Linked DNA regions of Homo sapiens. The protein of the gene in region 3 interacts with the protein of the main gene of each other region in a pairwise test. Each region holds a gene or a part of one and is shown on either strand. Other genes may lie near its edges.

Region 1 (3,649 bases), on a different chromosome or scaffold from region 3:
CTCATGTTATAACAAACATTCTTTTACAACATCTTTGTAACTCTGCACAGTTATCTGTGCAGAAATTATCTTAACATTTCTACACTTGGAATTGATTTTAATAAAACCAGACCATCCTCAGAAAGACTACCAGTTGCAGTCCCACTAACGATACTGCTTATCACTCACAGCAGTGGCAACACATTGGGTATCTATTTCTTAATCCTTGGTAATAAGGGAAAAATGGTAACTTGTGCTTCGTTGGAATTTCATTGATTTTAATTTAATGAAGTTGAATAGTGCTTCAAAAAATCCCTTGTGGATTTTTAATCCACATGCCTGGCCTTTTCAATCACAATACTCATGTCTTTGTACTGTGATGATTTACTCTTGGTACCTTTGCCTCTTTATATTATGGCTTTGTATTCCCATAACCATCTTAGCAATATTAGTAACAGAGAAAAACTGGTAACTAAAATTTCCAAAAGGAAGACTGTTTAATTGGCTTAACATACAATATAGTCCTCTCAATGAGGTAGGCCTCTATTCACTGAGGGCTGAATAACTGAATGACATTCACAATTAAAACAGGATCAAGAACAAACTGTATAATCAATCTTTCTGTATCTCTCTCTCACTGTGTCTGTCTCTCACACACAAACACATTTAAGCAAATATGCAGTTTGAATGGGTAATAAACAACAATAATTGATCATAGTTGGTAAAATTCCAGGTGACTTTTTTTTGCTCCTATTTTTACAACAGCATGTAGAATTTGTACAAATTTAAAATAATTAATTTTTAAAAATGCTTGTAAAACAACACTGACAATGTGATACCAATGATTTATTTGCCAACCAGAAAGCTCAGAGCGAAATTTGAAACTCATTTATAGCTACCATTCTGGTCCTTACTACAGATCTATTTATTTTCTAGATGTCTGATTGAATTTCTATTTTATTGTATCACTACTCTTGCAGTCAATTGCCTCACATTGTTGGTGGAATGTGGCAGAAACAAAAGATCCCTGAAATGAAAGGAAGGACTGAATCTTCAAAGCAAAGAGGCCAGTAAAGTGCCAAAGAACAAAGAAAAAAAAATACTCTTTCATATAACCTAATGAAAAGTCTGAATTCCAAAGATAAAGATGATGTCCTGTAAGATTCCAAAGAGAAGACAGAAAAGAAAAAACAAGTTACCTATACAGGAAATAGAATCTGACTAATGGGATTATTTGTCAGCAGCACTCCATGCCCAAAGACAGTGGAGCAGTTTGGACAATGCAGAGAGGAAAAAAAAAAAAAAAAACAGATGCCAGAATTCTAGATCCAAAACAACAAATCTCAGAGGAGAGAAAAAAACAACTGATTTTTGACACGTACAGATATTGCACACATGAACCTTTTTTGAAAACCGTTACCCAAGAAAATATTCTAGTCGAGCCAAAGGGAAAAATGTGAAGACAGAGTTCACGAATGGAAACGCAAAAGTGAACTGGCCCAGAAAGCCCACGCCCTGCCCAGGTGAGAAAAAAACACCAGACACGTGGTAAAGCTCAACAGAGGCCTCCTCTACTGCCAGAAGCATAGACAGAATTCACAGGAGAATGAATGCGGAAGCTGATAATGCAGTCATCCAAGGGCGTATAGGGAAAAAGTGACATGCCTTAGGAGCTGGGATCTGGGATGCATTATTTTCTAAATTTTCACAGAAAAGAGAAGAATAGCGTGATGAGTATCCGGAAGCCCACTCACATTCCGTAACTGTTACCGTTTGTCACACCTTCTTTCCCTCTTTCATGTATGTAAATACATACACATATATCTGCTTTTTTCCCCCTTTTGAACCATGTATAATTAAGTTGTACACCAAAGAAATCAAAGCAAAAGATGGTTCCAAGATGAAACTATGAGGAATGTATTGTAGTGATTAAAAAAAAACAATGTAATGTTCAAGCCACTAAGGAAAATAATTTAGGAAAAGAATCAATCCAGTAAAAGCAAGGATAAAGGAAGATAAAAGAATTATAAACCTTTACACATGATATACTGTATTACATATTCTGCAAATTACAAGATATCTGAAAACAGTGCAACCCATATTGGGAGAATTCAACCCTCCTCTGAACATGATGGATCAAGTAATCAAAAGAGAAAGGATCTACCTTCCCAGCATTTCCCCCTGGCCTGGCACATCAAGGAGACCCTTGAGCGCAGCCTCCTCGCTGTGCCCTGGCAGTGGGAAAATGTTATGCCCATCTCCCAATTACTCTGTCACTCACCGAGATGTGCGCCTTGGGGAACTCCACTCTCCACCATCCAGGGGTCTTCTCCTTGCTCTAACTGGGAGATGACCTTTGGCTTGGAAAAGAGAATCCCTGTTCATGAACAAGAAAGAAACGTGAGCGGCCATCGTAGCAGGCGGGTCCAGCCCCAGAGTGCCCAGGGCAGAGGGGCAGTACAGGGAAGGAGGAGGTTTGTTCTGAGAGGCTTCAAACTGGGCTCCTAGAGGACAACCAGGAGATGGTCCCAGGAAGAAAGTCAGGGCTCTGGTTGTGCACTCCTCTCAGCAGGAACACCCTGTGGGGCTCAGGGAACAGAGCTCAGTGGGCAGAAGACAGGAAAAGCAGAGAAAAGACCCCTTCATCAACTCTACTAAGCCAAGGTCTCTCCATACAACCAAGGGGAATGGCAATGGCCACTCTTGGAGCCCACCTGTGAGCCGACCTGGCCAAGCCCTCCAAATGTGCCCCCTGAGGGTGCTAAGGTGCTCTCCTGGCAGATTCTGCATCAGGAGGAAAGTTCCTTACCCAGTGAGACCAGGATGCTGTAGTTCTCCAGCATCACCTCCCGGTACAAGGCTCTCTGGGCAGAGTCCAGGTGCAACCACTCGTCCTGGCTGAAGAACACGGCCACATCCCTGAACGTCACGGACTCCTGGAATGGCAAACCCACTCCTGTTCATCCAGGACTGTCCCCACAACGAGAAGACTGAGAAGCAACCCTGTCACAACTTAGGGTTCTAAGTATTTCAAGTGTTTCTGGACAACTTTTCAGTTACCAAGCACACATTTATCATTTACCTATGGTGAGTGAAACACCGTCCCCTCAGGAAGCTTGAACACAGAGGCCAACCAAGAGAAGCACTTGAACCCATGAAACAAAATCAGAGCAAGAAAACACTGAACTTTAGATTTGGAAACGTCCGATCACCTAGACCAAACCCTCATCTTACAGGTCACACCTGACAGTCAGGTTTCGGAAGGAGGCACCAGCACATTCACTGAGGGAGATATAGGTGGAACACCACCAGGCTTGCTGGGAAAGGCGGTCACTGAGTCCTAGTTCTGCCTCAACTCGGGCCATCTCTATGAGTCCTGGGAAAGATGACACTGACATTCACAGTAGGGAAGGCTATGAGAATGTTCCAGGCATGGCTGTGTCAGGAGAGGTCCCAGGTGGTGGGCTACATAACCTTTCAAGCCAGAGGAGAAGGCTATGGTCAGTAGTCTCCCTCCCCACCCCAGAAGCTCCTGTTCTTCTATCTCTCTCCTCCTTCACTGGATGGCATGTTACTGCTCTGAACTAGGGCCATCTCCCCTTCTTGAGAGTCATCTTCTTGGCTGGGCACAGTGGCTTACGCCTATAATCCCAGCACTTTGGGAGGCCGA
Region 2 (4,257 bases), on a different chromosome or scaffold from region 3:
TCAGGGGCACAGTGAGACCCCCACACAGAAGGCTGAGGCCACGCCACTGACCAGCTGCAGGCCACACGGCAGAGGAGACTGGCCGTAGTCCTGGTCGCCCAAGTGCCATCGATTGGGGCTGCCACCACCAGCCCAGTGCCGCACCAGCACTGGCCACCATTCCTGGTTCCCCACAGCAAGCCTATATGACAGGAGATGGTGTCTCCATTTTACAGAAAAGGAAGCGGACGCCAGGGAGGGTAAGGGCTTGGTTCAAGGGTAGGCAAACAGTGCTGGTGACAACAGCAAGTAGGAACGCAGGCCCTGGCGAAGCCCTTCCTGTGAACCAGATGCAGATTGACAGAGCAGTGCCCGAGATCCCCATGTATCCTAGAACCACACGGTTTTCTGTGTGCCCGGAAGCCACACGCCCGAGGACCTGCGGACAGGTGCAAAGGGGACGACCTCGGGAACGGCGATTCTTGAGGTGCCCTTTGGACCTCGAATGACAGTGTTTGCTGCTCGTCCTCAGGCCAGAGCACTTTAAATAAAAACAACCCACACATTCTTGTGTTTGTATAAAAGATATTTACTTCAATTATCACACCTAGGGTGCTAGTGAATAATAATACATGGTGTGAGTCTCATACAGTGATATTGCTTCTCCGTATTATATAGGGACCGTTGTACAGTGCTGAGAACAAACATCGTATGGCTAACCAAAGACAGAGGGACAACACCAAGGGGCCGACGGGTGCCTCCCCCACCCCCACGCCAGCCAGGTCAACTTTGACTCTTAATGTAGAAAAACAAATAGCAAGAAATAAAATGTTACCAGAGAGATGTCACACAGCAACACACCAGAGGCATCTCAAAGCGATTTGTACAAAAAAAAAAAAAAAAGACGACTTTTTTTTTTTCCTTTTTTCTTTTTTGGTCAATTGGGTCTCTGTGAGGATTGGAGAAAAAAATCTGTGATTGTGAGGATGAACAAACAAGCTCTAGAAAGATCTAAGACTTGGTGCGTTACAGAAAATATAAAATACTGCTAAAATGTAAGACGTGACAAAACGCTAGAGTGGGGGTGGGGTGGGGGGAGCTGAGCTTATAGAGAGTTTTCCGGAAGATTCCGCCACCCTGTGAGTGCGTCTTGTGCTGTTAGTAGTCTGGACAGGAGCGTGGTGCTACCCGCTCTCAAGGCAAGCAGCAAAGAGTTATTGCACAAACGCAAAGAACTAGGTCTCTTATTCAATGCAAAGGGATGTGGGGAAAACCACCTTCTTTTTACCCCCACTTTTATTTTATAACAAGCTATTCTCCAATGTTTTAAGAATTTTGGGTGAATTCTCACATCTCCAGAATACACGGGATTTTTTTTTTCCAAGAGGTCTCAGATGGGGGTACGTGAGATGCCCGTTTTCTCAAGGGAAGAGGCAGAAGATGGTTTGAGAGAGAGAAATGCATAGACTAATTAGAGAAAAATGAAAAAAAAAAAGGCTTCTGGGGAGATGGGGACCATTGTTTCGGTGGAGGGTTTCTTTCAAAGAGAGAACAAAATCAGGGCCCCCGGCAATCTTGGAGAAGGGGAGGTGATGATATGGAAAGAGATGCTCTTCCCAGCCTACCTTGGGGTGAGCAGGGCCCTTGCCTTGGCCTGGGGTAAGTTTCCTTCTGCTGGGCCCATGGGATCAAGGCAGGGCGCCTCACCTTCACACCTGATTGGCAACAACTGGGTGTCCTGCTGGCTGAGCTTGGGGCCACAGCAAGCAATCTCCACACCCAACCTTCCTCCACGTTGAACCACCTATAGGGGAAAGGGGCCCTCTGCCTATGATCTCCTAGGTGAGCCCTCAAGCCACAGCCTGGTACTACAAAACACTGTTGCTTTGAAAGATGGTTTTGACCAACTTTGTACGCAAGAAAAACAACAACAAAAAACCAACCAAAACGTATCAACCCATGCGGGCCTTGCAAGAAATCACTCTCTCGCTTGGAGGTAAAGTCTTGGCCAGGCCACCGCGCCCTCTCTGACCACGGCTCGCCGAAACTTCATGAACCCAGAAGTCTTACCAGAGGCTCTAGGAGGCTTTGGGGAACTGAACTTGGCTTTGCTAAGATTCCTCTGAAGCTCCTCAAGCGAGCATTCTTCAACTCAGCAACTCCCTCACACGTTGGTAAATTTTTTTGTTCATAAACACTCTCATTTAAAAAGTTAGACACATAGAGACCACCAGTTTTTGAGTGGCTACTCTGGAGACAGGTGTTTGATTTTGCTGGGGAAACCCCCTCTGCCCCCCAGTCAATCCCCCAGACGCCTTGGTTCTCTGGGGGAGTAGGGGAGGAGAGGAAGGCAGAGGATAGTAACCACTAGAGTGACAGCAAAAAGCATTTATGACAACAAAACACAAAATAACAATACACTCCTGATAAGTACTTAAATGATTAACCTAATAATAAATAGAAGAGGATAGAAATAATTTTTTTTTTCTCAAGGAAACATCCTTTTATAATCACCCTCACGCACGCCGGCAGGTCAGTAGCAGTCAGTCCATTTCAACAAGACAAGATTAAGTGCTGGAAGGGATGGCTGTGGCCTCAGACACTGGGGAAGGGTCTCAGCTTCTGAATCACGGATACTCCCTATCCTGCCTCGTCAGGCCAGCGGCTCCGGCCAGAGCCCGCGGGCCCTGCACGCCCAGCACAGTGGTCACCAAGAGGCAGGCTGGGAGACTGGAGGGAGTCGGGGAGGCCTGTTTTCCCTTCGGTTCATGAACAAACGGAACTACAGTGAACAAACTCATTCATAACCTGAATCGTCCTGGTCTAAAGCTTACTTTGAGTTCATTTGGTGTGCAATACGTTATTTTTTTAAAATGAAGAAAAATGATTTCAATTGCACAGAGCTTTTACACATAGTCATCTATTTAAGTGCTTTCCGTTTAAAGCAAAGTACAAAAAAAATAATAAAATAATAAAAAAGAAGAAGGAAAAGGGGGGAAAAAAGAATTATAAAACAAAAGCAGCTCCGTGCCACTTCAATGTGTCTTGCTGAATGGTCTCTTGTTTCACCAGCAGAAGTCCCAATGCTTCCGTACACACTGTGCTTCTGATTAATTTCCATAGGGATGTAGCCGTGACATTGGGATATAAGGCACCTTTTCTTTCTGATTACAGAAAGCTTGATACATAGCATATAGCATATTTTGTGGTAGAAATTAAAGCGTAAACACTACAGAAATTACAGTAACGTAGACTAATGCTTTCTTAACATTATCGGGTAAACTAAAAGGATTCATGAAAAGCAACTCAAAGGCATCTTAAGAGTTTAAGAACGGGGGCATGGGGGAAGTGCACATTTATGCATAGCCAAATGTCTTTCTCTCGCCAGCCTTTTTTTTTTGTCTTTTTTTTTTTTTGGGATTTTTCGCCTACAATGCCCAACTTTTAAAGTTAGCATTTTGGAGGAGACTAGGCGCTTTGGAAATGTCTTGTTAAAGCTAAATGTCACTTCATCCAAAAATGAAAACTCGAGATGATGCCACGGATGGCATGGACACGGTTATCTTTGGAGGGAAGGTGGTGGTGGGAGAGGCCTGGGCAGGAGGAGGCAGTTTTTGGAAGTCGGGCAGACAGGCGGAAATTGCATTTCCTTCTATTCCCCTGACCAGGGTGGTGAGGAGCACAGGCCGCCGGGGCCTCTGGGATTGGGAAGACTGGGCTGGGGGGCCGGGAGTAGGGCTGGGGCTTGTTTTACGCTCTGCCCCCCACACCCCCTCCTCTTCCGTCCTGATTAAGCCCAAGGGTTGGTGGACTTAACTTTCAGCCCATCTCTAAGGGTTTCACAGACTGGATCTTTCTAAACTTTATTGGGTACCTGCTTCCCCTTTTCCCTGGTAGTTTTCATCTACAAAAAGTCAAAACCTGATCGAAATAGAAATAAGATCATCAAATTGGACCATTCTCTTAGCGTTCGAGTGTGCCGGCCAGACTGGCATTCAGTACACGCTGAGATCCAACCACATCACACTGGCCTCAGGTCACCACCTCGCCACTCAGGGCACAAGCCCTGCCCTTGTGGTCACAAAGGCTTCCCTAATGTCGTCGATGCCCAGGTGAAACCACAGAAGCACTGAGGGCTTTCTAAATGTGAGCTTTGGCTGGTCAATGCCCAAGCACAGGATGCTGTCCCCATCCTTAGGTTCTTACTTGCAAACTGTCTCCAGCAGGGGAACACTTTGGCCCCCACAGTGGACAGACCCACCTCCAACCACCAGCCCC
Region 3 (3,649 bases):
CAATTAAAAAAAAACTTTAATGCAATTCTAATTGGAAATGAAATTAGTATGTTAATTGTTAGAACACGACATATCTTTCCATTTGTTCAGAACTTGCTTTATAACCTTCAGTAAGACCTTCTAGACTTCTCCATAAAGGTCCTGCCCCTTTCTCATTAAATTTACTTCTGCCTGGGTGTGGTGGCTCACACCTGTAATCCCAGCTCTTTGGGAGGCCGAGGCGGAAGGGGTGCTTGAGCCCAGGAGTTTAAGACCAGCCTGGGCAACATAGCAAGACCATGTCTCTACAAAAAAATAAGAAAATTAGCCAGGCATGGTGCTACACGCCTGTGGTCCCAGCTAGTAGGGAGGCTGAGGTGGGAGGATTCCCTGAACTCAGGAGATCAAGGCTGATGCAGTGGGCCATGATCACACCACTGTACTCCAGCCTGGGTGACAGAGTGAGACCCTGTCTCAAAAAATAAATAAATAAATAAATTTACTCTATGTATTTTGCAGGTTTTGCACTACTCTGAATGAAATATTTCTCCTCCTTCCATTTCTAAGTACTCACTGCCAATATAGACGAAAGATAGGAATTTTTATATATTTTATAATATCCAGCCATCTTATCAAATTATTTTAAAAATTCTAATACTATTTTTAAAATCTCTTGGATTTTCTAGAAATACAATCCTATTGCAGTTTTTTATCTGTTCTTTTCCAATCTTTGTAATTTCATTTTCCTGTTTTTCCCACACTTACTAACACCACAAAGAACAATAACGTTGATAACAGACATCCATTTGCTACTTGATTTTAATTGAAAATATTTTTAGAGTGGCCAAATAGTAAAGGATTTGCTACTGGGGCTGGGCGCAGTGGCTCACACCTGTAACCTGTAATCCCAACACTTTGGGAGGCCAAGGTGGGCAGATCACCTGAGGTCAGGAGTTTGGGACCAGCCTGGCCAACATGGCGAAACCCCATCTCTACTAAAAATACAAAAATTATCTGGTTGTGGTGGCAGGCGCCTGTAATCTCAGCTACTCAGGAGGCTGAGGCAGGAGAATCGCTTGAACCCAGGAGGTGGAGGCTACAGTGAGCCAAGATGGTGCCACTGCACTCCAGCCTGGGTGACAGAGCGAGACTCTGCTTTTTAAAAAAAAAAAAAAAAAAAAAAAAAAAGGCCAGCGCAATGGCTCACACCTATAATCCCAGCACTTTGGGAGGCCAAGGTGGGCAGATCACCTGAGGTCCGGAGTTCGAGACCAGACTGACCAACATGGAGAAACCCCGTCTCTACTAAAAATACAAAATTAGCTGGGCGTGGTGGCGCATGCCTGTAATCCCAGCTACTCCGGAGGCTGAGGCAGGAGAATGGCTTGAACCCGGGAGGCGGAGGTTGCTGTGAGCCGAGATCGTGCCATTGCACTCCAGCCTGGGTAACAAGAGCGAAACTCCATCTCAAAATAAATAAATTAATAAATAAATAAAATAAATAATTTAAAAAAAAAAAAAGGGCCGGGCGTGGTGGCTCAAGCCTGTAATCCCAGCACTTTCGGAGGCCAAGGCAGGCGGATCACAAGGTCAGGAGTTTGAGACCAGCCTGACCAACATGGTGAAACCCCGTCTCTACTAAAAATACAAAAATTAGCTGGGAGTGGTGGCGCACACCTGTAATCCCAGCTACTCAGGAGGCTGAGGCAGGAGAATCGCTTGAAACTGGGAGGCGGAGGCTGCAGTGGTGAGCCAAGATCGTGCCACTGCACTCCAGCTGGGCAACAGGGCAAAACTCAGTCTCAAAAAAAAAAAAAAAAAAAAGGATTTATTACTGGGTTTAGTGAATAACTTTTAATAACTAACTTTAGTAAATATAACCTAAACAACTACTTATTCTTAGTCCTGAGACTTCTTGGGCCAAAGTGTCATTCGCACATGTTCCGCAGTGTTCTTTAAAGCCCCACCCACACAGCTGCATGTGTGATTCACGCCCTTCTCAGGCCCTCCCTGGCTCAGCTGGGATGGGACTCAGTGGCAAACCAAGACAGTGCCCTCCCGTTTGGCCCAACCCTGGGCTATGTTGTCATCTCTATGCACAGGATGGTCCTGGAGCCACGGCAATGAGCAGACATTCTCCTCTGAGAACACTGTGGCCACAATAATGCCTAGCCTTATCTTGCTGGGCTGAGCCCCTTGCCTTCCTAGGGACATAGGGACAATAAACCTATCTAGTCCTTGCTACTTGGCTGACCTTTTGATTTTGACCACTGCTGCTTCCACAAGTTTGTCCATGAGTCTAATCCTGTCACAAATGCGCTTTATTGAGGAGAATAAAAACAATAAAGGAGCTTTATCTTTGGCTTTAGCGCTATGGCTTCCATACACATGTTAATGAATGAAAAAGCATTCATTGAAAGGGTTTAAATAGTAAAGTTTCTTTTTTTTTTTTTTTTTTTTTTTTTAGATAAGATATCACTCTGTCGCCCAGGCTGGAGTACAGTGGTGTGATCTCGGCTCACTGCACCCTCTGCCTCCTGGGTTCAAGCGATTCTCCTGCCGCAGTCTCCCAAGTGGCTGGGATTACAGGGTATGCGCCACCACATCATTAATTTTTGTATTTTTAATAGAGAGGGTGTTTCACCATGTTGGCCAGGCTGGTCATGAACTCTTGACCTCAAGTGATCCGCCCGCCTCAGCCTCCCAAAGTGCTGGGATTACAGGTGTGATCCACTGTGCCCAGCCAAAAGTTAAATTTATCTAAGAGAAAATGCCTATCATTTTAAACTCATTACTCCCAAACTTTTCTGCACATTACAATCACTTGGAAATCTTCTTAAAATTCCAAAAGCCAGGCCACCCAGACCAATTACATACACTACAATCTCTAGGGATGGGACATAGGCACCAATGTGTTTTTTGAAGCTCTCCTGGAGGTTCCAATGGGCAGGTAAGTCGGGGACCCCCACTCTAATCAGCATTCACTGAGCTGATAAGCTGCAGCGTAAAACGGGAGCAGACATCCCCACTCGGCCATCATTCCTTTAAGTCCAAAGCTACGAAACACACCTGGCGTGAGAAGCAAAGATCCGTCGGGAGTGAAACTCAGTCTACGGAAGAAAGACTTCATGCTGTCGTCGTGAAACATCCGGTAGCTTCTTGCCTGTCGCACACAAAATTTATTTTTATTATTTTTTTTGTTTGTTTTCTACACACAAAGCTTAAACATTTTTCCAAATCTTTACACTCACAAATAAACGCTTCCCAACTGCTATATGTGCCTATGGTTTTCTTTACATAGTGTCATTTATTGTTGACATAATCATAAATGAAACTGAAACACATTACAAATCAAATAATTGTACAACACTGCAAGGGTAAACATTCATGAAAACTGACCACACATTTTTGTTAGGTAAAGCTATATGTATATATGTGTGTTTTATGTGGTTCTAAAATTATTTTTAAAAACTCTTAAGAACACAAACCACAGGGTCAATAGTGGCATGTCTGGGGCCTGAGACTGGCAGACAGTGGGAAGATGACCAGGAGACCTCTGCTTTCTATCTGTGTGGATTCATTAGAATTTCCAACTGAATGCACTCTTTAGATACAGAGTCTCGCTCTGTCACCCAGGCTAGAGTGCAGTGGCGCAATCATAGGTCGCTGT

What was found.
Region 1: the proteins of CHAF1B (region 3) and ZNF879 interact in a two-hybrid assay, tested with the Homo sapiens proteins (one large-scale study listed by BioGRID and IntAct).
Region 2: the proteins of CHAF1B (region 3) and CUX1 interact in a two-hybrid assay, tested with the Homo sapiens proteins (one large-scale study listed by BioGRID and IntAct).

The regions. Positions count from the first base shown.
Region 1 is NC_000005.10:179,026,739-179,030,387, reverse strand, and holds part of ZNF879 (zinc finger protein 879), read right to left. Parts: intron 2,916-3,649; coding exon 2,789-2,915; intron 2,357-2,788; coding exon 2,261-2,356; intron 1-2,260.
Region 2 is NC_000007.14:102,254,524-102,258,780, reverse strand, and holds the end of CUX1 (Homeobox protein cut-like 1), read right to left. Parts: 3' UTR 548-4,257; downstream 1-547. UniProt on the Homo sapiens protein: May be involved in intra-Golgi retrograde transport.
Region 3 is NC_000021.9:36,402,251-36,405,899, reverse strand, and holds part of CHAF1B (chromatin assembly factor 1 subunit B), read right to left. Parts: intron 3,143-3,649; coding exon 3,049-3,142; intron 1-3,048. UniProt on the Homo sapiens protein: Acts as a component of the histone chaperone complex chromatin assembly factor 1 (CAF-1), which assembles histone octamers onto DNA during replication and repair.